Linked DNA regions of Homo sapiens. The protein of the gene in region 1 interacts with the protein of each later gene in a pairwise test. Each region holds a gene or a part of one and is shown in the gene's direction. Other genes may lie near its edges. The genes, in order: LENG1, NUTF2, CCDC102B and USHBP1.

Region 1 (7,784 bases):
GGGGCAGCCTTCTATGGCGTCTACTGGGCTACGGGGTGCACCGTGGAGCTGCAGGTGCGGACGGTCTTGGAAGAGGAAGCCAGGGGGTCCTGGAACCTACATTTCCAACGGTGGAGGGAGGGGACGGAAGTTTGGGATGCCAGAGATCTTAGAGAGGAAGTATGGGAGAGGGTATGTTCGGACCCTGGACTTAGGGATTTTAAAGGAAAAAGAGAGGCTGGGCGCGGTGGCTTACACCTGTAATCCCAGCACTTTGGGAGGCTGAGGCGGGCGGATCACGATGTCAGGAGTTCCAGACCAGCCTGACCAACATGGTGAAAAACAGTCTCTACTAAAAATACAAAAATTAGACGGGCGTGGTGGTGGGCGCCTGTAATCCCAGCTACTCAGGAGGCTGAGGCAGGAGAATCACTTGAACCCGGGAGGCAGAGGTTGCAGCGAGCCGAGATCGCACCGCTGCATTCTAGGCTGGGTAACAGAGCGAGACTCTGTCTCAAAAAAAAAAAAAAAGAAGAAGAAGAAGAAGAGGCCGGGGGGAGGACCTTAAGCTTGGCTCCTCCAGGACCCCAAGCCTCTACTCATGGTCCATCCCGCTCCCAGGAGATGCCCCTTGTCCAGGAGTTGCCACTGCTGAAGCTTGGGGTGAATTACCTTCCGTCCATCTTCATCGCTGGGGTCAATTTTGTGCTGCCGCCCGTGTTCAAGCTCATTGCTCCACTGGAGGGCTACACTCGGAGTCGCCAGATCGTTTTTATCCTGCTCAGGTTCCAGCCTCACGGGGATGGCTGGGAATGATGAAGGGTGGGGGCGGTCAGAGGGATGTTGGCGCTGACAGGTAAGACACGGAAATCCTGCTGATACCGAATCCAGGGATTCAAATCCTGACTCTGTTGGCCAGGTGCAGTGGCTCACACCTGTAATCCCAGCACTTTGGGAGGCCGAGGCTGAGGTCAGGAGTTCGAGACCAGCCTGACAAACATGATGAAACCCCGTCTGTAGTAAAAATACGAATATTAGCCCGGCGGTAGTGGCTTCTGTAGTCCCAGCTACTCGGGAGGCTGAGGCAGGAGAATGGCTCGAGCCTGGGAGGTGGAGGTTGCAGTGAGCTGAGATCGCGCCACTGCACTCCAGTCCGGGTGACAGAGTGAGACCCTGTCTCAAAAAAAAAAAAAAAAAAAAGAAAGAAAGAAAGAAAGAAATCCTGATTCTGTCACTGGGCCTCAGCTTCATCTGTGAGATGGGTTGAATGCGGGCGCGTTCCACTGAGAAGGGAACTGCCACATGGTGGGTACCGGGTCAGGGCCCATTCTCTGCCTTCCCCCCTTCAGGACCGTGTTTCTTCGCCTCGCCTCCCTGGTGGTCCTGCTCTTCTCTCTCTGGAATCAGATCACTTGTGGGGGCGACTCCGAGGCTGAGGACTGCAAAACCTGTGGCTACAATTACAAACAACTTCCGGTGAGAACGGCATGGGTGTGCGTGGGACTCTTGGGTCCCTGAAGGAAAGATGGAGCTGGGTGGGTCCAGACTCTTGGTTTGGGCGGAGAGGGGAGCTTGGGGTGCTGGAACACTCTCCCAAGGGTATGAAAGTTTGAAAAACGAGGACCCCCAGAGAAAGTATTGACAGGGTCTCATAGGCTTGCGATGTGGAGACTCGGACGCGTGGGCCTCCAGGTGCCCGGGTCCCGAGTTCTTTCTGATATATTTCTTCCTTCTTCAGTGCTGGGAGACTGTCCTGGGCCAGGAAATGTACAAACTTCTGCTCTTTGATCTGCTGACTGTCTTGGCAGTCGCGCTGCTCATCCAGTTTCCTAGAAAGTGAGAGCCCCGCCCCTTGCTGTGGCCCCGCCCCTCTAGGACGAGGCCGTGCCCCATCGCGCTGTTCTTTTCACCGCGCACCTTTTTACCATTCCCGCCTCTGCCTGCTCCCTTTGCTTGCCCTAGGTCCGCAGATCTCCCCGCTCCCCGCCCTTGTTTTAGTGGGTTACTTCCCTCTGGCCCCGACGGCGGCGACATCTGGGTCCCTTCTAGTCCTCAGGACCCGCCCTCTGGACACACCCCCTCCACGTGGAGTCCTGAAAGTCCCGCCCCCCCCCCCCCCACCACCAATACGCATGCTTCCTATTGGCGGGCGGGGCGGTGGAGGCGTGGAAACTCCAGGCCGCCACTCCCCTGACTCCGGCCCGGCCCCGCCCCGTCCTTCAGGCTCCTCTGTGGCCTCTGTCCTGGGGCGCTGGGTCGTCTGGCGGGGACCCAAGAGTTCCAGGTGCCCGACGAGGTGCTGGGGCTCATCTACGCGCAGACGGTGGTCTGGGTGGGGAGTTTTTTCTGCCCTTTACTGCCCCTGCTTAACACGGTCAAGTTCCTGCTGCTTTTCTACCTGAAGAAGGTAAGGGGTAGGGGGGACCCTTGGGTCTGAGGCAGGAGGTATTGGGGCCCGCACTCCTGGGTCAAGGGCAAGGAAGATCCTGGGGGCCTGGATTACTCGGTCCTGAGAGAGGAGGGGGTTGGAGGACAGACTACTGCATCTGAGAGGAGGGGTCTAGGGCATTCTGACTTATATGTCTGAGGATCTGGGGACTCAGACTCCGGGGTCCTAGATGAGGAAGGGGCTCAGACTCCTGGTTCGGAAAAAAGGAGAGGCAGGTAGGCCGGGTGCAGTGGCTCACGCCTGTAATCCCAGCACTTCGGGAGACTAAGGCGGGTGGATCACCTGAGGTCAGGAGTTTGAGACCAGCCTGGCTAACATGGCAAAACCCCGTCTCTACTAAAAATACAAAAAAAATTAGCCGGGCTTAGTGGCAGGCGCCTGTAATCCCAGCTACTCAGGAGGCTGAGGCAGGGGAATTGCTTGAACCAGGGAGGTGAAGGTCGAAGTGAGCCAAGATCGTGCCACTGCACTCCAGCCTGGGCGACAGAGCGAGACTCCGTCTCAAAAAGAGAAAACAAACAAACAACAACAACAGCAAAACAAATTAGCCGGGAGTGGTGGTGCACACCTGTAATCCCAGCTACTCGGGAGGCTGAGACACGAGAATAGCTTGAACCCGGGAGGGGAGGCTGCAGTGAGAGCCACTGCACTCCAGCCTGGGCGACAGAGCGAGACTCTGTCTCAAAAAAAAAAGCCTGGGCGACAGAGCGAGACTCTGTCTCAAAAAAAAAAAAAAAAAAAAATGGAGGCACAGACTCTTGTGTTTCAGAGCCCTTTTCTCCGTGCCTTCCCCCACCAGCTTACCCTCTTCTCCACCTGCTCCCCGGCTGCCCGCACCTTCCGGGCCTCCGCGGCGAATTTCTTTTTCCCCTTGGTCCTTCTCCTGGGTCTGGCCATCTCCAGCGTTCCCCTGCTTTACAGCATCTTCCTGTAAGTGCGAGAGGCTCCCGCCTCTCTCCCTCCCTCTCTCCCCATTCAGTGTTCAGACTCCTGGCACTATGTGAGCCCAGCCTGTCTTGACTTCAGGATCCCGCCTTCTAAGCTGTGTGGTCCATTCCGGGGGCAGTCGTCCATCTGGGCCCAGATCCCTGAGTCTATTTCCAGCCTCCCTGAGACCACCCAGAATTTCCTCTTCTTCCTGGGGACCCAGGCTTTTGCTGTGCCCCTTCTGCTGATCTCCAGGTGAGACGGCCCAGACTTCTGGGTCTGGGTTTGAATGCGTGTGATCTGGGGGCCACCACCTGCGTCCAAGAGAGGAGAGGCTTGGGCGTGGGAGCAGGCAACGTACTGAGTCTGAGGGAGGAGGCCTAGGCTCCTGGACTGCTGGGTCCGAAGGAGGAGGTGGGCGGGACGTAGGACTCCTGGATCTGAAGGCGGAGGGGCTGGGAGACTGAACTCCTTGAGCCCAGACGAGGAGGGGCTTAGGCGTCCACATCCCTGGCTTCGAAGGAGCCAGACGTTTGGATATAATGGAAGAGCGTGTCAGGAGTGGCTTCCGTTCCTGTCTCCTTCAGCATCCTGATGGCGTACACTGTGGCTCTGGCTAACTCCTACGGACGCCTCATCTCTGAGCTCAAACGTCAGAGAGAGACGGTGAGCCAGGCGGGTCCCTGAGAGGGCCCCTGGGGAACATGGAAAGGGGTTGGGGAAGAGGATTGTCTCACCTCCACCTCTCTTTGCCCCAGGAGGCGCAGAATAAAGTCTTCCTGGCACGGCGCGCTGTGGCGCTGACCTCCACCAAACCGGCTCTTTGACCCCCGCAGCCCACGTCCCGCTTTCAGACCCCAGGCCCATTGTAAGCCTAGGTCACAACATCTGTAAACTAGGAGAACTGGAGAAGACTCCACGCCCTTCCAGCTTTGGTATCTGGAGATTTCCAGGGCCCCTCGCCGCCACGTCCCTGACTCTCGGGTGATCTTCCTTGTATCAATAAATACAGCCGAGGTTGCTGAGCGCGCTTTGAAATCTGCGTCCTGAAGGTGGGGGCAGGGCTACAGCGGGGCAGGAGCCAATCAAATGTACGGGCATGTTTGTCGGTGCAGAGCGCTCTTCCGCAAGGAGACTTGTCGGTCATGTCGGCCAATCGACGGCCGCATCTGGTAGCATCAGGGGCGGGCCAACTTATGATTGGTTCAGATCTGTGACAAGAGGCGGTTGCTAGGGGATACCACGAGCCGAACGCCTAGCATTCGCTGTGATAAAGGGCGTCTCAGCCAATCACCTGTCGCTACAGGCCAGGGGGCCGTACCAACTAATTCGGAACCAATCCGCGGTCGAAGTAGGGACAAGAAAAAGGGGGGCATCCTCTCGCCAATCGGAAGTGCAAAGAGGCGGGCGTGCCAGTCCCTGGACAGCTACGACGCCATGAATATCTTGCCCAAGAAGAGCTGGCACGTCCGGAACAAGGACAATGTCGCCCGCGTGCGGCGTGACGAGGCCCAGGCCCGGGAGGAGGAGAAGGAGCGTGAGCGGAGGGTGCTGCTGGCTCAGCAAGAGGTAAGCTCGGAAGCCGGCAGGGCGGCGCTCCGGGGCCCAGCGCGCAGGCGCCGCGGTTGGGGGCCGGAAGCGGAGGCGTTGCGCAGGCTCAATGTGCCCCGTGTGAAATTCGGGACCAGGCGCCGATCCCACTTTCGAGGACGTTGCCCCGCAAACCTTGTGCCCACTTCCACGAAACCTTCCTTGATCTCGCCCTCGTCTTAGTTTTTCCCCCACTGATGTATTTCACATGGCTGGAACAGTGTCTAGCACAAAAGAGAAGCTTAACATTTAATGAATCCGTGAACCCTTGGACAGTTCAAGGAAATTCGGATCACTTTTTAGTTTGCCTGCACAGCCTATTTATTGAGCATCTACTGTATGCTAACTACATGCCGTGCACCTGACTTGCGGAATCCCCAATAAGCACTGTTCGTTCTTAGAGGGGCACTGTCATCTCTGTTGCACGAAGTGAGATGGCTTCAGTGAGGGGAAGGCACATTTTAAGGAGAGGCGGACAGCCAGGCTCCACGCCATCGGGCGAGCCCTTTCGTGCACCGCCCCCTAGACACATACACACAAACACGGGCTTTCCGTATGGCTCTTTAAATCTGTTTGGTGTACACCCAACTTTCATTTCCTTAGCTAGTCTGATCCTCCGCCGTGGGTGGGAGGTAGTCTAGGTTTTTAGAATCTCAGTAGGCTGCTGAGCGCTGTTTGAAATCCGCGTCCTGAAGGCAGGGGACAGGGCTTCAGCAGACTTGGGGTAGTCACTTGGAGCCATGGCTAGAATTCAGATCGTCTGGCCTAATGCATACCTTTATGGCTGTTTTAATTGTCTCACTTGAGGTTAGGAACCCCTTTGGTTTAGGCCAGGGACCTCCTCCCATACATCCTTGATGACCCGTGGTTTACTATTTGAAAGGGAGTTTACAAAACCCAGGCGTTGCCTCATCTGCCTACCCTCACCCCCAGCTAGGACAGGTGCCTCTTTTAGGCGCCTAGTGCTCCCTTTCTCATAACCCCAGCACCCTGGACTGCCATTTTCTGTGGTGGGCACCAGACTCACAGTTCTTGAATTACCTCTAGGTTCTGAATGTCCTGCCTATAACTTTCTCCCCAGGCCCGTACAGAATTCCTACGGAAGAAAGCCAGACATCAGAACTCACTGCCTGAGCTTGAAGCAGCAGAGGCGGGAGCCCCAGGTTCTGGCCCTGTGGACCTGTTTCGGGAGCTGCTGGAGGAAGGGAAAGGAGTGATCAGAGGCAATAAAGAGTACAAGGAAGAAAAGCGACAGGAGAAAGTAAGCTGGCCTCACCCACTTCATCAGAGGGGCCATGAATCGAGTTGGAGGGAGGGGGCACTTTAGCCATTGGTTGTGACCAAGGTCAAACAAGAGTGAACACACAGAATTTAGGACCATACCAAGGCATGACACTCAAAAAGCGTTGGCTATTGCCGTCTGGGCGCCCACAGGGGTTGGAGGTAGATGCTAGAGGTCCCCAGCTGCTGGGCAAACCGCTCAGTTCTCCAAACTGGAGGAGTCTCAAACCTGATGGGCTTTTAAAAATTTAAATCAGCCGGCTGTGGCTCACGCCTGTAATCCCACCACCTTGGGAGGCTGAGGCGGGTGGATCACCTGAGGTCAGGAGTTCAAGACCAGCCTGGTCAACATGGTATCTCTAAAAATACAAAAAAAATTAGCCGGGCATGGTGGTGCGCGCCTGTAATCCCAGGGAGGCTGAAGCAGGAGAATCGCTTGACCCAGGAGGTGGAAGCTGCAGTAAGCCGAGATTGCGCCACTGCACTCCAGCCTGGGTGACAGAGCGAGACCCCATCTCAAAACAATCAAACAAAAAGTGAATCAATCGCCTCTTGCTTTTTGGCTAAGATCAAGTGTAAAAGGTACATCAGTGGCTGTGCATGGTGGCTCACGCCTGTAATCCCAGCACTTTGGGAGGCCAACGTGGGTGGATCACCTGAGGTCAGAAGTTCAAGACCAGCCTGGCCAAACATGGCAAAACCCCGTCTCTACTAAAAATACAAAAATTAGCTGGGCATGGTGGTGTGTGCCTGTAATCCCAGCTACTCGGGGGGCTGAGGTAGGAGGATTGCTTGAACCTGGGAAGCAGAGGTTGCAGTGAGCCGAGATCGTGCCACTGCACTCGAGTCTGGGCAACAGAGCGAGACTCCATCTCAAAAAAAAGAGGTACATCAGCTCTTGTCATTTATCTGCTGTCTCTGGACTTGCTGACCCCACCCATCGCTCCTCTGCTTTGCTTGATCCCTTCAGGCTTCTCTTCAAGTCTCTCTGCAAAGATGCCTGCCTCTGAACACTCAAGTGGCTCCACTTGTCCCCTCCTTCCCCTGCTGTTACTGTACCTGCTACTGTCCCCCCAGGGGGAGCTTTGCCTCTGTTTGTCTTCCATCCCCAGCACCTGGTCCAACTGGTTCATAACAAGCCTTAGATACCTGTTCGCTTAGATACCTGTGTCAGGGAGACACACCTGACACCTTGAAAGATTATATCACATCTCTTGTATTTCCTGGCCCCCTCAGGAGAGGCAAGAGAAAGCTCTGGGCATCCTGACATACCTGGGCCAGAGTGCAGCGGAGGCACAGACTCAACCCCCTTGGTACCAGCTACCCCCAGGGCGAGGGGGCCCCCCGCCCGGCCCAGCCCCAGATGAGAAGATCAAGAGCCGTCTGGACCCTCTGCGGGAGATGCAGAAGCATCTGGGGAAGAAGAGACAGCACGGCGGTGATGAAGGCAGTCGCAGCAGAAAGGAAAAGGAGGGGTCTGAGAAGCAGCGACCCAAGGAGTAAGAAGACCCCACCTCGGCAGACCAGGGCCCAGACCTTCAGGGCTTGGCAGCAGCCC
Region 2 (7,056 bases), on another chromosome or scaffold:
GCCGGGATTCCAGGCGTGAGCCACCACGTCCGGCCTTATTTTTATTTTTTGCAGTGATGTCATCTCCATATGTTGCCCAGGCTGGTCTCAAACTCCTGAGTTCAAGCGATACTCCCACCTCAGCCTCCCAAAGTGCTGGGATTACAGATGTGAACAATTGCCCAGTGATCACAAGGGTTTTCTTCAGGGACAAAAAGATACTTTTCCTTCTCCAACGTTACTCAAGAGTAGGAGGAATTCAGGTCCCTCCCTCTCATTCCAACCTCTAGAAGTTCCCTGTAACTTCTTTTTTTTTTTTTTGAGATGGAGTCGTACTCTGTCTCACAGGCTGGAGTGCAGTGGCGCGATCTCGGCTCACTGCAAGCTCCGCCTCCCGGGTTCACGCCATTCTCCTGCCTCAGCCTCCCGAGTAGCTGGGACTATAGGCACCCGCCACCACGCCCGGCTAATTTTTTGTGTGTTTTTAGTAGAGACAGGGTTTCACCATGTCAGCCAGGATGGTCTCGATCTCCTGACCTCGTGATCCACCCGCCTTGGCCTCCCAAAGTGCTGGGATTACAGGCGTGAGCCACCGCGCCTGGCCGTTCCCTGTAACCTCTTTGTCTGAGGTCAGCTAGCCATTGCTAGGCATCCTGATCCTGAGAATTCGTTAAATGTTTCTGGAACTTGGCGGGCCATCTAGGTCTCAGATATAAGAGAAGTGGCCTGAGGTTCTCCAGGATCTATCTGCATCCTCTATTCATGTAGGGCTGACTTGGAAGTGGGACCTGGCATGCGGTGGTTGGGATATTGCCGCACAAGGATGAGGCAGGATACAAGATGCCTCAGTTCTCAATTAGCTCAAAATTATGTCCCTTCGTGTATAGGAGCCTATCTGCCTATCACTATTTTTTTTTGAGACAGAGCCTCGCTCTGTTGCCCAGGCTGGAGTGCAGTGGTGCAATCTCAGCTCACTGCAACCTCCGCCTCCTGGGTTCAAGCAATTCTCCTGCCTCAGCCACCCGAGTAGCTGAGATTACAGGTGCCCACCACCACACCCAGCTAATTTTTGTATTCTTAGTAGAGATGGGGTTTCACCATATTGGCCAGGCTAGTCTTGAACTCCTGACCTCAAGTGACCCACTCGCCTTGGCTGCCCAAAGTGCTAGGATTACAGGTGTGAGCCACCGCACCTGGCCGAGCCCATCTCTTCTCTCTGAGCCATGTCTTGTTTTATTCCGTTGCCTTTGGAGTTGGTGGTTTGGGAGGGGAATAATTACTTAAGAGAGACACAGAATAGGCAGGGTGCGGTGGCTCATGCCTGTAATCCCAGCACTTTGGGAGGGCGAGGTGGGCGGATCACGAGGTTAGGAGTTGGAGACCAGCTTGGCCAATATAGTGAAACTCTGTTTCTATTAAAAATACAAAAATTAGCTGAGCATGGTGGCAGGTGCCTGTAATCCCAGCTACTTGGGAGGCTGAGGCAGGAGAATCGCTTGAACCAGGGAGGCGGACGTTGCAGTGAGCCAAGATTGTGCCACTGCACTGCAGCCTGGTGACAGAGTGAGACCCTGTCTCAAAAAACAAGGGAGACCAGAATTTTGTTTTTTTTATTATTATTATACTTTAAGTTCTAGGGTACATGTGTACAACTTGCAGTTTTGTTACATATGTATACATAACGCCATGTTGATGTGCTGCACCCATTAACTCGTCATTTACATTAGGTGTATCTCCTAATGCTATCCCTCCCCGCTACCCCCGCCCCAGGACAGGCCCCGGTGTGTGATGTTTCCACCCTGGAGACACAGAATTTTCAAATTTCAGAACAAGTCTGGGCGCAGTGGCTCACGCCTGTAATCCCAGCACTTTGGGAGGCTGAGGTGGGTGGATTACTTGAGGTCAGGAGTTCAAAACCAGCCTTACCAACATGGAAAAACCCTGTCTCTACTAAAAATATGAAAATTAGCTGAGCGTGGTGGTGCATGCCTGTAATCCCAGCTACTCAGGAGGCTGAGGCAGGAGACTCGCTTGAACCTGGGAGGCGGAGCTTGCAGTGAGCTGAGACTGTGCCATTGCGCTCCAGCCTGGGCAACAACAGCGAAACTCCATCTTGAAAAAAAAAAATTCATAACTAGAAGCCACCTTATATCAAAAATTCTAGGATTCAGCACCAGCTCTGAAGCTGGAGCATTGCTTGAGGCCAGGAGTTCAAAACTAGCCTTGTCAACATAGCAATACCCATTTCTACAAAAGAAAAATAAAAAAATAGCCAGTGTGGTTGTGGTGTTGTATACCTGTAGTTCCAGCTGCTCAAGAGGCTGCAGGAGGTCAAGGAACCGTGAGCTATGATCATGCCACTGCACTGTAGCCTGGGGACACTCTAGCAAGACCCTGTCTCCAAAAAAAAGGCTAGGTTTCCCTTAACAAAACACTATTATCTTTTTTTCTTTTTTTTTTTTTTTCACCCAGGCTGGAGTGAAGTGTCACTCTTGCCCAGGCTCAAGTGCAGTGTCGCAGTCTCGGCTCACTGCAACCCCCGCCCTCCGGGTTCAAGCAATTCTCCTGTGTCAACCTTCCGAGTGGCTGGGATTATACCCGCCTGCCGGTATAATCCGGCTAATTTTAATATTTCTAGTAGAGATGGGGTTTTGCCATGTTGGCCAGGCTGGTCTCAAACTCCTGACCTCAGGCGATCCGCCCACCTCAGCTTCCCAAAGTGCTGGGATTATAAGCTTGAGCCACCATGCCTGGCCTTTTTTTCTTTATTTTATTTCTTTATTTTTTTATTTTTTGAGACAGAGTTTCGCTCTTATTGCCCAGGCTGGAGTGCAATGGCGTGATCTCGGCTCACTGCAACCTCTGCCTCCTGGGTTCTAGCGATTCTCTTGCCTCAGCCTCCCTAGTAGCTGGGATTACAGGCATGTGCCACCACGCCTGGCTAATTTTGTATTTTTAGTAGAGATGGGGTTTCTCCATGTTGGTCAGGCTGGTCTCGAACTCCCGACCTCACTCAGGTGATCCACCCACCTTGGCCTCCCAAAGTGCTGGGATTACAGGCATGAGCCACCGCTCCCGGCCCTTTTTTTCTTTCTTTTTAAAGTTTTTCTTAGGGTACATCAGCAGCCTTTTTATTTTATTTTATTTTATTTTAATGAGATAAGGTCTCACTCTTTTACCAACAGTGAGACCCTGTCTTTAAAATAAATTAAATAAATAGAAACCAGCCAGGTATGGTGGTGGGTGCCTGTAGTCCCAGCTACTTGGGAGGTGAGGCAAGAGGATCACTTCAGCCCAGAAGTTCAAGTCTGCAGTGAGCTGTGATTGTGGCACTGCTAAAGTGCAGTTGGTGCCATCTCAGGTCACTGCAGCCTTGACCTCCTGGGCTCAAGCAGTCCTCCCACCTCAGCCTCCTGAGTAGCTGGGACTACAGGTGCGCACCATCACGCTTGGCTAATTATTATTATTATTTCTGAGACGGAGTCTCACTCTGTCTCCCAGGCTGGAGTGCAGTGGCACGATCTCGGCTCACAGCATCCTCCACCTTCTGGGTTCAAGAGATTCTCCTGCCTTAGCCTCCCAAGTAGTTGGGACTACTGGCTCCTGCCACCATGCTTGGCTAATTTTTGTATTTTTAGTAGAGACAGGGTTTCATCATATTGGCCAGGCTGGTCTCGAACTCCTGACTTTGTGATCTGCCCACTCAGCCTTCCAAAGTGCTGGGATTCCAGGCATGAGCCATTGTGCCTGGCCACACCTGCTAATTTTTATATTCTATTTTTTAGTTTTTGTGGAGACAAAAGTCTCACTATCTTGCCCAGGCTGGTCTTGAACTCTGGGCTCAAGCAATCCTCCTGCCTCAGCCTCCCAAAGTCCTGGGATTACAGATGTGAGCCACTGTGCCCAGCCAAGTTTTACAACTTCTTGTAGAGACGGGATCTCACTGTGTTGCCCAGGCTGGTCTCAGAACTCTTGAGCTCAGGTGATCCTCCTGCCTCAACCTCCCAAGTACTGGGATTATAGGGAACAGCCACCACGCCTGGCCTGTTGTGCATGGCCTTCTTTTTGAGATGGAGTTTCGCTCTGTCACCTAGGCTAGAGTGCAGTAGCATGATCTCAGCTCACTACAGCCTCTGCCTTCCAGGTTCAAGCAATTCTCCTGCCTCAGCCTCTCAAGTAGCTGGGACTACAGGCACGCGCCACCACGCCCAGCTAAATTTTGTATTTTTAGTAAAGATGGGGTTTCACCATGTTGGTTAGGATGATCTTGATCTCTTGAACTCTTGGTCTGCCCGCCTTGGCCTCCCAAAATGCTGGGATTACAGGCGTGAGCCACTGCTTGCCTGGCCTGTGCGAGGCCTTCTAGTCCCCTGCTTGGAGCATGGGTTTGTGGCTTCTCCTCCTTTCACTGAGACCCTCCTATGGTCACTTTAAGTGCCCAATAGTTGTTCCTGTGGTGGTACCCATCAGGGCATCTTCCCAGGCACCAGACAGGAATTCTCCACAGAGGTGGGAGGTTCAGCAGACCTGGTCAGGGAGGCTCCTTGGATGTTCCTTCAACAGATGGCCCTTGCCTGGGGGCTTACAGAGGGAAACAGGAGACAGCAGGGACTTTGGAAATACCAATAGCGCTTGTTTTAGAATCCAATTCAGACCATTTTCGTTGAGGCCTCCAGGACAGAGGAATAGTCCTTTTGGGGCAAGGGGAGTGAATCCTAAAAGTTTTCCACAGAATAGACATTGAAAGTTGGGCATGATTTCTTGGCCGGGCACAGAGGCTCACACCTGTAATCCCAGCACTTTGGGAGGCCAAGGTGGGTGGATCATCTGAGGTCAGGAGTTTGAGACCAACCTGGCCAATATGGCAAAACCCCGTCTCTACCAAGATTCCAAAAAATTAGCAGGGCATGGTGGCAGGTACCTGTAATCCCAGCTACACGGGAGGCAAGAGAATTGCTTGAACCTGGGAGGCGGAGGTTGCGGTGAGCCAAGATCGCGCCACTGCACTCCAGCCTGGGCGACAAAGGGAGATCTCTGTCTTTAAAAAAAAAAGTTGGGCAGGATTTCTTTAAGCTGAGGTTGAGCCGAACCTTGTGCTGGGTGCTGGTTTGTTTTTTTTTTTAATTAATGTTTTGATAGGGCATTTGAGAATGATGTTTGTGTGTTTGCAGTTCAGTTTGAGTTGGCTACCCCTTTCCTGGCTTTGTGATTCTGTGATTCTCTCTTCCTTTGATCATATATGGCAGGAATTCTTGAGTCCCTCCCTCGGGGAGCCAGCAGTGTATGGATTATCCTTGGAGTGACTTAGGTCATGTGATATTATTCACCCTCTTTTTCCTCACCCTATCAGCTGGAGTGTGCCCTCCTGGGCAGAATGCTTTGCTTGGGTCTGGGTTTGGCTGGGAACGTGTCTTAGTGGCCAAGGGAGAGGGACACGAGGCCCAGGGTGGCCTGCCTAGGGGCCACAGGGCTCCTACTGCTGGCTGACCAGTGGCCAAGAACTTCTTTTCATTGTCTGGGGCGTTACTCATTTGTTGCTGTACCTGCTGTGTGCCAGCTCCTTAAGCCCCCAGGCTGGAGACAGGGCTGCTATGGGGATAGGGAACCCTTATTAGAGAGGGGTTTCTGGGGTACCTGGGAACTGAGGGCTGTTTGTCCCAGTGTCCTCAGTAAACTGGGGGAATTTTGGAATGTTTGTTTCTTAAAGTCTCGAATGATTCCATCAGAGCCAGTGGGTCTCCCGAGGGCAGAAACTGGAAAGCTTGCTGCCCCAGGAAAGAGCTCTGTGTGGAGATACTGGTTCCACTTGCAGGTGGTTTCAGGACTAGGAGAATGCAAATTCTCAGTTGTCCTAAGGTGTAAAGCTGCTTTGACCTGCTGAGTAGGTGCTCAGGTTCTTCCATTCTGAGGCTCCATGGAGCTTGCTGATTTCATAGGGGAAGACAAGGCCTGGGCTGCATTCCTTGCCACCCGATTTTTTTTTGGCGGGGGGGGGGGATGGGGGAAATGAGAATAACTTTATTTCATTGCGGGGAGTGGGCAGATGTCCAGCCTCAGAACTTCTGGAACTGCTTCTTGGTGCCAGCGGCCTTGGTGACCTTGAGCACGTTGAAGCGTACTGTCTTGCTCAGGGGCCGGCACTCACCCACTGTTACGATGTGGCCAATCTGGACGTCCCTGAAGAAGGTGGACAGGTGTATGGACATGTTCTTGTAACACCTGATTTTGTCACTTAGGTGCTTTCTGCTACTCCACATTGGCTCTCAGCTGTTTGCATCTCGGCCAGTTTTTTTTTGTTGTTGTTGTTTTTTGAGACAGTCTCGCTCTGTCGCCTAGGCTGGAGTGCCGTGGTGTGATCTCAGCTCACTGCAACCTCCACCTCCCAGGTTCAAGCAATTCTCTGCCTCAGCCTCCTGAGTAGCTGGGATTACAGGCACCCACCACCACGCCTGGCAAATTTTTATATTTTTAATAGAGACAGGGTTTCACCATCTTGGCCAGGCTGGTCTTGAATTCCTGACTTCATGATCCACCTGCCTCGGCCTCCCAAAGTGCTGGGATTACAGGCGTGAGCCACCATCCCTGGCCCAGTTTTTTTTTTTTTTTGCTTTTGTTTTCCTTTTTGAGTCGGAGTTTTGCTCTCGTTGCCCAGGCTGGAGTGCAGTGGCGTGATCCTGGCTCACTGCAACCTCTGCCTCCTGGGTTCAAGCAATTATCCTGCCTCAGCATGCGGAGTAGCTGGGATTACAGGCGCCTGCCACCACACATGGCCAATTTTTTGTATTTTTTATAGGGATGGGGTTTCATCATGTTGGCCAGGCTGGTCTCAAACTCCTGACCTTAGGTGATCTACTTGCCTTGGCCTCCCAAAGTGCTGGGTTTACAGGCATGAGCCACTGTGCCCGGCCCCATCTCGGCCAGTTTTGTGGACATTCTAATGCTGGCTATGCCAGTGGCCTTTTGTGGTCTTAAATTCTTTCTTAACCTCTTGGAGTCTTTGTTTCCTTGTCTATAAAGTGAAGATAATCATACCAGCTTCACAGGGCTTGTTGTGAGACTCAAGTGAGAGAATACAGA
Region 3 (6,880 bases), on another chromosome or scaffold:
CAGCTTATTATCATTTAAGAATAGCTTCCCCATCTCCAGCCTCCTTGTCTTGTTCAAGGAATGAAAAAAGAGAAAGAAGTCAACAGACTGGCATTAGAAATACAAAAGTTTTCTAAACCCATTAGATTTCCACTTATGTTTCATTGGCAAAACTGCACCACACAGCCAAATATATTTGTATGGGAGGCTTGGTAACATAGGCTTCAAAAAAAATGACCACATTGTTGCTCCAAACAAAAATAAAAAATTGTTTTGTAGGGAGGAAAGGGAGAAAGGATACTGGGTAGGTAAATATCAGAACCCACAGGGTGGATGTAATATGTAGAATGAAACTGGAATCCACTAAAAAAAAATAGCCTTCATTGATGTGTGCTGAGTACCTCAAGACATTATAAACTTGCCAACAAATTTTGGAAACCTCACGGCTGAATTTTTCTCGTCTCTTTATCATATGCCCCCAAGTGATTGTTATATGATATGGAGTGTTAGGATAATGGAGGTGTGTGTGCACAGGGGTATTATAACCATGGTGTCGATGTACCCTTTGAAACTAGGATGGAGACCATAGATAACTTTGTTTTTTATTCTGAGAGGTCCCATGCTATCAATGAACAAATAATTTGTGAGGCAGACTTGGCAATAAGGATGAAGTAGGACACCTTCTCCATTTTCTGACCCTAATGGTTGTGGCCTGTGTGGGGCAAAAAGAGCCTTCACATGAGAAAGCTGCAAGTAAGACAGTGCCCTCCATATATAGTCAGATTTTACTGGTCATTAATTTGTAAACTCGCCAGTAAAAAAAAAAAAAAAAAATGTTGTGGTAAGACAAAAACAAATGCAAAGATACAGAAGGAGATAAAGTGAAGAGAGAGGTTTCAGGTTTTAATGTAAAGACGGGTTATTAAATTTGAATGGTGAAGAAGAGTAAGAACTTAGGAATAGCAAAGAGATTTCTAGATTGAGAGACTGGATGGGGCTAGATTGAGATTACAAGATACAGTAGAGTCTTCGGAAGAAATATAAGAGCTTTGATGATTGGAGATTATTGAAAGATTTAAATGGCTCCTAGTGAATATTTCATTAGACTTTGGAAATACAGATCTGAAGCTTTAGAAACTATTAAGGAAAGGCCATATATATTTCAGAATTATATGTCTATTAGTTCACTAGGGCTGCTGTAACAAATATCACAAGTTTGTGGCTTAAAACAATTGATCTCATAGTTCTGAAGGACAGAAGTCCAAAATCAAGATGTCAGTCAGCAATACTCTTTTGAAAGCCCTAGGGAAGAACCCTTTTTTGACTCTTCCTAATTTTGGTGATGGTTGGCAATCCTTGGTTTGTAGACCTATCACTCCAATTGCTGTCTCTGTCTCTCTCACAACATTCTCCCCTGTGCGTTTTGTCTAAATTTCCCTCTTCTTATGAGGATACAAGTCCTTGGAATATGGTTCCCCCTCACCCAGTATGGCCTCAGTGTAACCTGATTACATCTTCAAAGACCGTATTTCCAAATAATCATCTTCATAGGTACAGGAAGTTAGGATTTCAATATATCTTCTTAGAGGACACAATTCAACTCACCAAATATGTGTGGCAAAAGAAGCCTCAAAAACAGATGTGCTTACCTAGACAGAAATGTGAAATAAGAATAGGACCAATGATGGCCTCTTGAAGGTGTTCCACCATTGAAAGGAAAGAAAAGTAATAAGAGAGGGGATAAAAGTATGACATGGTCAGAAAGATGAAAACATAATCTAGAAAAGTTGTGGTTTAGAAGCCAAGAAAAGCCAATGTATTATGAAGAAGGGAGTTGACAAAAAGATTAAAAAACCTTCATGGACTTCAAGTGCATAAGTACCGGAAATAGACTACTGTATCTTTTTAAAGATGGAGCAGAAGAAAGCTGGGAGAAGAAAGACAATTTAAGAGACAGAGAGACACTGCAGTGATCTAGAAAGATCATGATGGTTGTCTGAACCAGAGTAGTGGCAGTGAGAAAAGAAGACTGGGCAAATTATTGAAGTATAATCAAAAGGAACTAGTGCTGGATTTGATATAGAATAGAAGGAGTCAAGGATGACTTCCAGAATTTTTCTTTGGGAAACTGTAAAACTGGGTTGACATTTACATAGATAACACAGCAGGTCCATGGAGAGATGATGATTTCAGTTTAGATAAGCTGATGCCATATCTGTGTAATTTTCTAGTTGAGGGGTATAGTGGGCTGACAAATATGAGTATTGAAAATTCAGACAGTCATTGGGTCTAAAAGTAGATATTTGGGAGTCATCTAAAAAGAAAGATGGTAATTTAAACTATGAGGATGGGTGGCTTTATCCAGAGAGAGAATATACCATTTATATGTAGATTTATCTAAGAACATATGTGATGCACACCAAAGGATGGATGGAGGATGAGGCATCATCAAAGAGGGTGAGAAGGGCCAGCAAAAGAGGTCAAGAGGAAAACCAGGAGAGTGTTATGCCAAGACAAGAGATGTCTTCATGTGGGCAGGGTTGTGAACAGTATGAAAGGCTGTGTAGATGTCAACTAGAAGGATTGAGGTGAGTTAGAAAAATTAAAAATAAATAGAATATTTATGTACATGCATGTGTGTGTGTGTGTGTGTGTGTGTGTATTGTCACTTTGATGAATTAAAATCAGGTGGATGCAAGACTAAATAAAATTCTTGGCTGGAGAACTTTCAATCATTTGGCCATGACAGAAAGAATGGTACCTGAAAGTGAAAATGACTGAATTAAAAGTAAAGTTCATTGGCATACATGAAATTGACTAGAGAATGTATGGTATTTAACATCACGTGGGGAAAATCCGGACAGGAGGGAACGTTCAAAGATAGAGGAGAGAGAATCATGATTAAGTTTAGCTCGATGGGTCAATTGGCTTTATACAGGAAGATGGCCACCTTTTCCATTGCATCAGAAAGTAAGTGGGAAAAGAATGTTAAGTAGAGATAGATGATAACACCGTAATAAGCCTACAAATTAGGGAAGGGTGAAAAATAAAATAATTTGAAGACATTTATTGCCTAAATTTCAAATGTTGTTTTTTTGCTACTTAAAAGGAGCAAGGCTATCCTGTTACCTTTTGACTTTTCTTTTTTACTTTGGACATTTTTTTGCTGCTAGTTTCAACCAGAGAAGCTCTTTTTTATGTGATCTCTCGCCTCCCCCCTCAACCCCCATCAGAACACTTCCTGACAGCTGAGTCATGTCAATGGAAAGCTACTTCATATTCTTTTTCCCCAGGGAAAGGGGCCAGAGAGCTTTCACTGGGCACCCCGGGGACTACAGCTCACAATTCCTGCCAATGTGACCACAATCAAGGGTTTTGACATGCAGTTATTGTTTCATGATTTGTATACTCAAATCTTTTATTAAATATGATTTCTTTTGCTTTTGTGCAATCTAATGCAAATCAGATTGGATGAATATTTTATATTGTTCCTGTAATGTGCAGTATAATTTCCTTTTAAATATTTTTCAGATAGGTACTTCCTGGGCTTTTTTTTTTTTTTGCTTTGCTATTTTAGTTTTTCTATTATTATTACAAGTTATACTGTTGTAATTAAACATTAAGAACACTTGTGGATCAAGGCGTGGGTGTCTTTTTCTTTTTCATCCACAGTACAGGTTTCAAATGGTTGTATGGAAAGCTTTGGATAACCATACTTAGGGAACATTAAAAATGGTTTTATTTTGGTTGGCTCAATGGTGATCCAAAGAGGGGGTTGTGGTAGTGGTTTCAATAAAACTTCACAACCAATGGGAATCTTTTTTGAGTTTGTGTGGAGTGCCCTTAATGCTGGAAATAATCCTGTTGGCTAGGACTCCAGAACTGTACGGATGAGAAAAGGATGCAGGAAATTCTGTTGTTTACACATGTGGCTGCAACTGAGACACTGGAGCAGCCCAGCAAGCCCAGAGGGTAAGAGTGTTTAATAACCTTGTGGTTTTCTATTTAATTTTTATATTTTCCTGCTGAGGTACAGCATGTGTTGTTCTCAGAGCAAAGACAGTTGCTTACAAGATGCAGAGCAAAACTACTGTAGAGCTGGGAAGCAGAAGGATTTGGAGTTTCTTTTTAAAGTGATTCCTTCCTTTCCCCTTTCATTTTTCCACTGTGGGTGTTATTATCCTGACAATTTGTCATACATTTCCTGTCTTTAAAAAATAACTGTATACTAAGCAAAACTCAGGTAAGAATTTCGACTCTACATTTAGACAGTAATAGTATATGTTGATATTAAAATTTTGTTTCATTGTTCCAAATGAATGTGAATTAGTCATTGTGTTTGAAGTAATCTATATTCTTACAGTAAAAAAGTAAAATTGTTATGGAAATCCTCCTATCTATGCCTCATGTACCTTGAATTCTTTTCAATTGTTGAGTCTTCATGCTAAATTCTTGTATTCGTTAATGGAAAGTATATTTCAAACTTAGCATGAATATTGATTTCTTTACATGCTACCTGTATAGTGTGGAGGAGACAGGGATACAGAATAAAATAATAAAATCCTGTGCATAATAAAAAGTAATGCTTAGCTATATAGAAGTAAATTATAAAACTGAAAAAAAATCTCTGGAAACCTTTGGGAAGCATTTGCTTACGTTTTCTGCAAAGATAAATTATCAATTGAATGTCAAGTGAGTACATTTATTAAATATAAATATAAGAAAGATTCGTCAAAAAATATAATTAGAAATATGTCAGTAACATAGGACCAAAATATATAAAATATTTATTGATATTCTTATTTACATCAATACCAGTTTTTCTGTTTTCTAAAATAATGTGAATGTGTTTTTGCTAATAATTTTCATGGGAAATGGTGTTATTACAACTTTTGAGTAAATATTCTCTTGTTAGTAAAATATGTTATTGCCAATAAATATTTTTATATATCCAGTAAATATTCTTGAATTCTATTTCATATTTTAATGAAAGCAATAAATTAGAAAGAAGATTTATAAGTTAGCGATACAATATCTGTGTAGGTTTGTGTGACCTATTTGAATATATTCAGAAAAATGCTTTATGTGAATTGCTTTATTTTCCAAAATATCCTATGTTCTTATGAAATCATAGATAATTTCATTGTCTCTCTTTTGCATCCTTCATATGTTATCATTGGATTCAATAATTGCTTGATCACTGGGACATTGTTTCTGGGCCTCACTATGGGTTTGGCTTCAAGGTAATTTATGAATGTTTCATCTAATTATTACAGTTACAAAACAATGGCTGTAATTCTTAAAATACAAGAAATGCTCTCAGGTCGTCATATCTCTTATGCTGATATTACAAGACCAATTGAATTCTGCCATAATGCCAAAATATTCAGAAATTCCCTTTTTAGCAGGTATGTGAGTCCTAAAGAGATGCCAGAGGCTTTAAAGAAAAGTTCAACTTCTTGAACTTAGTCTTGAAAAACTAGTGGAACTTGGATAGGTGCTGAAAGCAAGAGGAATACTCTACTTTGAAGAAGTAATTGGCAAAAAGGGTTTTGAACACAAATTAGCATAGAGCATAAAAGAATGGTGAGTAATTTATCTGATTGGAGCAGAAAAAATATACCTTTGTGAGTATCAGACGTTGTACTCAATACATAGAACAGGAAAAATTGATAGAGCATCTTAACATTGCACACAGAAAAATGTGGCCTTTACATATCATACAAAGGGGACAATTGCAAGTTTCTGAAAAGAGGTGGAGTATCTGTGCCTCTTTTCATCATCTTTACCATAATCATCATCATCATCATTTTGCCAACACATAATAGCATTTTCTGCTTGCAAGGTGATTTACATACATATCCACAATTTTGATAGCTTTGCAAGAAAATGAACATTATTTTACACATTATTTTCATTTTGCACTTGAAGGAACCTGCTGTTCAGAAACGTTCAATGATTTGCTTAAAGCCACAGATAAAGAAAGTGAGGGAACCAGAATTTCAAATAATGTCTTTCTGGCTCCAGAGCTATTTCCACGATGTTGTGCTGGTATTCTAGGAATGTGAATCTGGCAGAAGTCGAGCAGAATGGTTTGAAGTGGACACTGGGATTTTAGGGTGCAGGGAGGAGGTCGTGAGACAACAGCCCAAAGATCCATTCCGATATTCTATAAATCCAGACGAATTACTGTTCTATCAGTTGGGCCACACTTTTCCTTTGGGAATTGAGAGAAGAGACTGACGCTGCAAATAAGGGGTAATTTTTACATTTAAATTAGCGGCCCTCAGATTCAACACTTATGCTTTTCTCTCTCTTACATTTTCTTAAATCTACTTAGAGAAGGTATCTTTTGCATTCTCAAAGAAAATGTCATCACTGATTTGCACTGAATATTACCTATTCACAAATGAGATGTGTGAGGTGGCCAGGAATAACACTGGGGATGTACTGACTTTCCTCTGTTTCTTTTTGATACATGGTATCAACGAACACTCAGCGACCAAATACTCTTAAAACTATGGAATGACCAAGTTATTATCAAATAAAGGCATTGTATAAGTTTCATTTCAATAGGTGAAAAGCATAAATAAAATTCACATTGTAATAGATAGTGTGAAATACAGTACATTCACAGTAAAAAAGAATAGAACTTATTTATTAACATGTTTTCCTTCATATATCCAAACCTTAAAGACATTACTTCTTCTCAAAGTAGAACTAGTATCTGGGATAACATTCATTTTCTTCTTCTTTTTTTTCAATGAAATAAAAATTATAGCTTATTTCATAACAACGAGGTTTTTTTGTTCAATGTATACATGATGGTAACTATGCTATCATTTTATGAACATACTGCCTACTAGTTTAGAATCATACTATCATTAAGTAGGCTTTACTG
Region 4 (7,056 bases), about 37 Mb from region 1:
CAGCTACCAGGGAGGCTAAGGCACGAGAATCGCCTGATCCCAGGAGGTGGAGGTTGCAGTGAGCCGAGATTTCACCACTGCACTCCAGCCTGGGTGACGGAGTGAGACTCTGTCTCAAAAAAAAAAAAAAATAATAATAATGCTGGGCACGGTGGCTCACGCCTGTAATCCCAGCACTTTGGGAGGCCGAGGCACAGATCACGAGGTCAGGAGATCGAGACCATCCTGGCTAACACGGTGAAAACCCGTCTCTACTAAAAATACAAAAAATTAGCCGGCGTGGTGGCGGGTGCCTGTAGTCCCAGCTACTCCGGAGGCTGAGGCAGGAGAATGGCGTGAACCCGGGAGGCGGAGCTTGCAGTGAGCCGAGATCCCGCCATTGCACTCCAGCCTGGGCGACAGAAGAAAACTCTTTCTCAAAAAAAAAAAAAAAAGAAAGAAAGAAAGAAAGAAAAAGAAAGAAAACTGAGGGTGGTGGGAGTAGGCCCTGGAGTGGCAGCATGACTGGCCTGTTCAAGAAACCCGAAGGAGGCCAGTGTGGCTGGAACACAGGGGGCAACAGGGAGAGTGTGGGGAGCCAGAACAGAACAGAGGGAGAACAAATGCAGATCGCGTAGGGCCTCGTGGGCTGCAAGGAGACGCTTGGGCTTTGCTTGGATTAAGGTGAGAGCCCTGGAGGGTTTTGAGCAGAGGAGGGGCATGCTCGACGCAGGTGTTCACAGGCGCCCTCTGGTGGCGGAGGTGAGGGTGGACTCCTGGAGAGCCAGGAGGCGACTTCATTGGTCCAGACATGCACGATGGTGGAGGTTGTAGAAGTGGAGAGATGCGGACGGATTCTGGGTGATGTGGCAGATGGAACTGACGTGTGAGCGTGAAGGCTAGAGAGAAGTCAAGGACAACTTCAGGCTTTGGGACCTGCTGGACTAGAAGGGAGAGATGGAGGAGCTACAGGGTAGGCAGGTTTGGCTGGGGGTGACCAGATCTCTTTAGCCCTTGATAAGCTCAAGTGTCCATGAGACATCCACGTGGGGTCCTCAAGGGAGCAGCTATATGTCTGAGTCCAGGGCTCAGAGGAGACAGCAGGGCAGAAGGGAGAAACTTGAGCATCCTTAGCACACAGGTGGCATTTAAAGCCATGTGGCTGCTGGGTGCATTGTCTCATGCCTGTAATCCCAGCACTTTGGGAGGCTGAGTCAGGAAGATCACTTGAGGTCAGGAGTTCAAGACCAGCCTGGTCAACATGGTGAAACCCCATCTCTACTGAAAATACAAATATTTGTCAGGCATGGTGGCAGATGCCTGTAATCCCAGCTACTCGGGAGGCTGAAGCAGGAGAATCACTTGAATCCGGGAGGCAGAGGTTGCAGTGAGCTGAGACTGTGCCACTGCACTCCAGCCTAGGTAACAGAGCAAGACTCCATCTCAAAAATAAAAATAAAAAAGCCATGTGGCTGAATGAGATATTGAGAGGGAAGCCCTCATCTTAGGCTGGTAGAAAAACTTTGGAGCCCAGTCCAGGGATTCATTTTTCCCCAGAGTGGGGCCCATTTTTCTGCTGGGAAAAATAAAATCCTCAGCAGCTGAGAAACATTCCCAAGGTCAGATAGTGAGATTTTTGGCAGGCTAAGTATCCAAGCCTCTTGCCTTCCAGCTAGGGTTCTTGCCACTTCCCCAAGAACAGGCCTTGGGGAGAGAGGGCTGGTGGTTGGTTTGAGCCCCTAGGCCTGACGTCCCCCTCATCTTTCCCAGGTTCAAGAGCTGCAGGATTCCCTCTTGAGGCTGGAGCCCTGCCCACATCTTTCCCACAACCAAGCAGGTGGCTCAGGCAGTGGTTCTAGCAGCTCTGAGGCAGACAGGGAACCCTGGGAGACTCAGGTGAGTGCGAGAAGTTCAATCCCATGGTCTTGATGTCCTTAGCCTTCAGGGGAATGAGACTCAAATCTTTGTCATGGGATCCAACAGCTTTGGGGTTGCAAAATGCCTACAATCCCAGGCTCTTGGTGACAATTGGGGTCAGTTATATCACTTCTTCTTGGCAGGACTCCTTCTCCCTGGCTCACCCCCTGCTTCGGCGCCTCCGCAGCCATTCCAGCACCCAGATCCTTGGGTCTCTTCCCAACCAGCCCCTCAGTCCTGAGATGCACATCATGGAAGCCCAGATGGAGCAACTCCGGGGGTAAGAGACTCAAATGCTGAGCTCATAAGGGCACAGGCACCTCCTCCAACTGAGTTATAAAGCCAGGAGTCTGAAGCTGCAACAGGAGGGAGGGAAAGGGTGGAAATTGAGGCCTGACTGCCTTAGAAGGCCTCTGACTTTCCCTCTTCCCCACCTTCGGGAACAGGAGCATTGAGAAGCTCAAATGCTTTAATCGTCTGCTATCAGCTGTGCTACAGGGATACAAGGGCCGCTGTGAAGGCCTCAGCATGCAGCTAGGCCAGCGGGAGGCTGAGGCCACAGCATTGCATCTGGCCTTGCAGTACAGGTCAGTGCACCCTGCCAGTGATGTCACCAGCTGGGGAGGGAGTGGGCTTTCTGAGGATGGCCCCAATCCACAGAACCCTCACTGGAGAGCACCTTCCCCACTTCAGAAATTAATTTTTTTTTTTGAGACAGAATCTCGCTGTGTTGCCCAGGCTGGAGTGCAGTGGTGAGATCTCAGCTCACTGCAACCTCTGCCTCCTGGGTTCAAATGATACTCATGTCTCAGCCTCCTGAGTAGCTGGGATTACAGGTGTATGCCACCATAGCCAGCTAATTTTTGTATTTTTAGTAGAGATGGGTTTCACCATGTTGGCCAGGCTAGTCTCGAACTCCTGACCTCATGATCCCCCCTACTGGGCCTCCTAAAGTGCTGGGATTACAGGTGTGAGCCACCTTGCCTGGCCCAGAAATTAACTTAAGGCAATTTTAGTTCAGGGTTGCTAAGGGAGTCTGCATGCTTCCAGAGCTGAGGGCAGTGGGGAGAAGAGGGGTTCAGGAGCAAGTGGGGACTGGCACCTATAGAGCAAGATGTAGCTAAGTGGATTTTTTTTTCTTTTTTCTTTCTTTTTTTTTTTTTTTTTGAGACAGAGTCTTGCTCTGTCACCCAGGCTGGAGTGCAGTGGTGCCATCTTGGCTCACTGCAACCTCCGCCTCCCCAGTTCAAGTGATTCTCCTGCCTCAGCCTCCTGAGTAGCTGGAACTACAGGTGCGTACCACCACACCTTGCTAATCTTTGTCTTTTTAGTAGAGACGGGGTTTCACCATGTTGGTCAGGCTGGTCTCGAACTCCTGACCTCAGGTAATCCTCCCGCCTCAGCCTCCCAAAGTGCTGGGACTACAGGTGAGGGCCATTGCACCCAGCCGAGCTGAGTGTCCTGAAGCACTCAGAACCAGTGTCCCACAGTGAACACTGTGAAGAGGCATACAGGGTTCTGCTTGCTCTGCGGGAGGCCGACTCAGGAGCAGGAGACGAAGCCCCCATGAGTGACCTGCAAGCAGCTGAAAAGGAAGCATGGAGGCTGCTGGCACAAGAGGAGGCTGCCATGGATGCAGGAGCACAGCAGAATCCACAGCCAAGGTACCCCCCTGGAACCCTGGGAACTGGCCTGGTTGAGGAGTGGGGTCTTGACTGGGGGATGGGGCTCCCAGAGCTCACCACGTTTCGGGGCTTGGTGTGGCTGTGTCCAGCAAGGTCGGTATGGAGCTCACTGTAGTTGGTTGACATGAGGCTCAACTGCAGTTGGCCTGTTGCTACTTGACAAAGTTGGCATGGTGGTTGACAGACATTGCAGTTGGCATGAAGATGAATGACAATGCCTACTGGTTAAAACTGGCACCCACAGCCGGGCACAGTGGCTCAAGCCTGTAATCCCAGCACTTTGGGAGGCCGAGGCAGGCAGATCGTTTGAGCTCAGTAGTTCAAGACCAGCCCTTGTAACATGGCGAAAGTCCTTCTCTACCAAAACTACAAACAAATTAGCTGGGCATGGTGGTGTGCCCGCGTAGTACCAGCTACTTGGGAGGCTGAGGTGGGAGGATGCCTTGAGTCTGGGAGGTGGAGGCTGCAGTGAGCTGAGATTGCACCACTGCACTCCAGCCTGGGTGACAGAGTGAGACCCTGTCTTTTTTTTTTTTTTTTTTTTTTTTGAGACAGAGTTTCACTTTTGTCGCCCAGGCTAGAGTCCAATGGTCCGATCTCGGCTCACTGCAACCTCTGCCTCCCGGGTTCAAGGGATTCTCCTGCCTCAGCCTCCCGAGTAGCTGGGATTACAGGCTCCCACTACCACACCCGGCTAATTTTGAATTTTTAGTAGAGACGGGGTTTCTCCATATTGGTCAGGCTGGTCTCGAACTCCTGACCTCAGGTGATCCACTTGCCTCGGCCTCCCAAAGTGCTGGGATTACAGGCGTTAGGCACTGCGCCCGGCCGCAGCTAATTTTTTATGAAGACGGATTCTCGGCCAGGCGCGGTGGCTCACGCCTGTAATCCCAGCACTTTGGGAGGCCGAGGTGGGCAGATCACAAGGTCAGGAGATCGAGACCATCCTGGCTAACACGGTGAAACCTCGTCTCTACTAAAAATCCAAAAAAAAAAAAAAAAATTAGCCGGGCGTGGTGGCAAGCGCCTGTAGTCCTACCTTCTTGGGAGGCTGAGACAGGAGAATGGCGTGAACCCGAGAGGTGGAGCTTGCAGTGAGCCGAGGTTATGCCACTGCACTCCAGCCTGGGCGACAGAGCAAGACTGCGTCTCAAAAAAAAAAAAAAAAAAGACGGATTCTCACTCTGTTGCCTATGCTGGTCTCAAACTTCTGGCTTCAAGCAATCCTCCCACCTCAGCCTCCCAAAGTGCTGGGGTTACAGGCATGCATCACCGCACCTGGCCACCATGTGGTCTTGATGGAAGGTGGTGCCTAGTGGGGTATGTTGGTGTGACAGGGACCACCAAAGATGGCATAGATTCCATCGTGGCCAGTGAGATGGAAGGTGATGGACCCTACCAGGATTGGCATGAACTTAACCCACCTATGCCTGCCAGTGTTGACATAGGCACCTTTTCTGTTTTCTATAGCCCTGAAGGCAGCAGTGTGGATAAGCCCACCCCACAGGAAGTGGCTTTCCAGCTCCGAAGCTATGTCCAGCGTCTCCAGGAGCGCCGTTCTCTAATGAAGATTCTCTCAGAGCCTGGCCCCACCTTGGCACCCATGCCCACTGTGCCCCGTGCAGAAGCCATGGTGCAGGCCATTCTGGGGACCCAGGCTGGCCCAGCTCTTCCCCGACTGGAGAAGACACAAATTCAGCAGGACCTGGTGGCCGCAAGGGTACAAATGGGCTGTGGCCACTGTGTCAGTCTTTCTTGGTGGGACAAAATCCTTTACTGAGGTCGGGGGACCAAGGAGCAAAGGAGAATTCTGCTGGGCTGAGTGCAGGCATTGTGAAGGGAGAATTGGAGCTGGGGTTTTGAGGGATTAATAGGAGTTTGTTTTCTGGGGTTCAGTTTCTCATTAGACTACAAATCTGGCTCTCCAAAATGCCCTTCCTATGGGAAGAGATGGGAGCAAAGAACACAATCTTGGGTTTGTAGCTTGGCATGAAAAACTTGAGGTTCTGGAGTTAGAGAAACTCCAGAAGCTTTGACAGAACTAATACTTGACCTATGTAAGCTACTTGCCCCTCTAGGAAATGCCATTTCTACAGCTGTAGCTTTTATGGGAGGAAGATATTTCCACCTCACAAGAACATGGTGAATGGTGAAGGTCCTAGTTTGTTTGTTTGTTTGTTTGTTTTTTGAGACGGAGTCTTGCTCTCACCCAGGCTGGAGTGCTGTGGCGCTATCTTGGCTCACTGCAGCCTCTGCCCCACTGCCGGGTTCAAGTGATTCTCCTGCCTCAGCCTCCCAAGTAGCTGGGATTACGGGTGTGCACCACCACACCTGGCTAATTTTTGTATTTTTAATGGAGACGGGTTTTCACCATGTTGGCCAGGCTCGTCTCGAACTCCTGACCTCAGGTAATCCACCCACTTTGGCCTCCCAAAGTGCTGGGATTACAGGCATGAGCCACTGCGCCTGGCCAAAAGTCACAGTTTTTGTCTGAATAGTCCTCAGTGGGTGCCTCTTGGGGCCTCAGTTTCCCTGCAGTTGACCGTAGAAGCATAAATTCTCTCCCCTCTCCTTGGTCCCACAGGAGGCCCTGGCGGACCTGATGCTTCGGCTGCAGCTGGTGCGGCGTGAGAAGCGGGGCCTAGAGCTGCGGGAGGCTGCCCTCCGAGCCCTGGGTCCAGCTCACGTGCTCCTGCTGGAGCAGCTGCGGTGGGAACGGGCAGAGCTCCAGGCTGGTGGGGCAAACAGCAGTGGCGGACATAGCAGCGGAGGTGGCAGCAGCGGGGACGAGGAAGAGTGGTATCAGGTGAGCTGCCCTGCCTGAACCTGGTAGGGGAGTAGCTTACTAATGAGAACATAGCCCTTGTCAATCACAGCCTTTTTTTTTTTGTTTTTTTTGAGACGGAGTTTGGCTCTTGTTGCCCAGGCTGGAATGCAATGTTGCAATCTCGGCTCACCACAACCTCCGCCTCCCAGGTTCAAGAGATTCTCCTGTCTCAGCCTCCTGAGTAGCTGGGATTACAGACACGCACCACCACATCTAGCTATTTTTTGTATGTTTTGTAGAGATGCAGTTTTGTAGAGTTGCAGTTCACCATGTTAGCCAGGCTGCTCTCGAACTCCTGGCCTCAAATGTTTCGCCTGCCTCCACCTCCCAAAGTGCTGAGATTACAGGCATGAGTCGCCGCACCTGTCCTTAATGCAGCTCTTTAAATCATCTCTCCTACCTCCAAGCCTTTGTATATTCTGTGTCCCTGCCAGGAACACCGGTCACTTCCCTCTTTGTGTCATAAAGTCCTCGACCTCCTGTAGATCTCAGCTTAGACATCACCTCCTCAAGGAAGCCCTCCTGGAGTGACTTCAGATGCGGTTTCCTGTTATTTATTTCCCTTATCACAGTGGTCCCAGCTACTCGGGTGGCTGAGGTGGGAGGATCACTTGAACCCGGAGTTGGAGGCTTCAGCGAGCCACGATT

The links.
Region 2: the proteins of LENG1 (region 1) and NUTF2 interact in binary tests that used the Homo sapiens proteins (3 or more experiments, as listed by UniProt).
Region 3: the proteins of LENG1 (region 1) and CCDC102B interact in binary tests that used the Homo sapiens proteins (3 or more experiments, as listed by UniProt).
Region 4: the proteins of LENG1 (region 1) and USHBP1 interact in binary tests that used the Homo sapiens proteins (3 or more experiments, as listed by UniProt).

The regions. Positions count from the first base shown.
Region 1 is NC_000019.10:54,156,704-54,164,487, reverse strand, and holds the start of LENG1 (leukocyte receptor cluster member 1), read left to right. Parts: upstream 1-4,766; 5' UTR 4,767-4,792; coding exon 4,793-4,924; intron 4,925-6,026; coding exon 6,027-6,206; intron 6,207-7,462; coding exon 7,463-7,725; intron 7,726-7,784. Other genes in the region: voltage-gated chloride channel TMC4, read left to right, coding at 1-54, 601-764, 1,329-1,455, 1,718-1,815, 2,203-2,386, 3,228-3,358, 3,455-3,610, 3,943-4,021 and 1 more.
Region 2 is NC_000016.10:67,849,923-67,856,978, forward strand, and holds part of NUTF2 (nuclear transport factor 2), read left to right. Parts: intron 1-7,056. UniProt on the Homo sapiens protein: Mediates the import of GDP-bound RAN from the cytoplasm into the nucleus which is essential for the function of RAN in cargo receptor-mediated nucleocytoplasmic transport.
Region 3 is NC_000018.10:68,794,231-68,801,110, forward strand, and holds the start of CCDC102B (coiled-coil domain-containing protein 102B), read left to right. Parts: upstream 1-3,849; 5' UTR 3,850-3,951; intron 3,952-4,040; exon of another isoform or gene 4,041-4,222; intron 4,223-6,880. UniProt on the Homo sapiens protein: During interphase, forms fibers at the proximal ends of centrioles to maintain centrosome cohesion. During mitosis, dissociates from the centrosome following phosphorylation to allow centrosome separation. Contributes to CROCC/rootletin filament formation.
Region 4 is NC_000019.10:17,254,716-17,261,771, reverse strand, and holds part of USHBP1 (harmonin-binding protein USHBP1), read left to right. Parts: intron 1-1,749; coding exon 1,750-1,875; intron 1,876-2,039; coding exon 2,040-2,176; intron 2,177-2,342; coding exon 2,343-2,483; intron 2,484-3,070; coding exon of another isoform or gene 3,071-3,176; exon of another isoform or gene 3,177-3,188; intron 3,189-3,299; exon of another isoform or gene 3,300-3,386; coding exon 3,387-3,560; intron 3,561-5,051; coding exon 5,052-5,301; intron 5,302-6,165; coding exon 6,166-6,387; intron 6,388-7,056.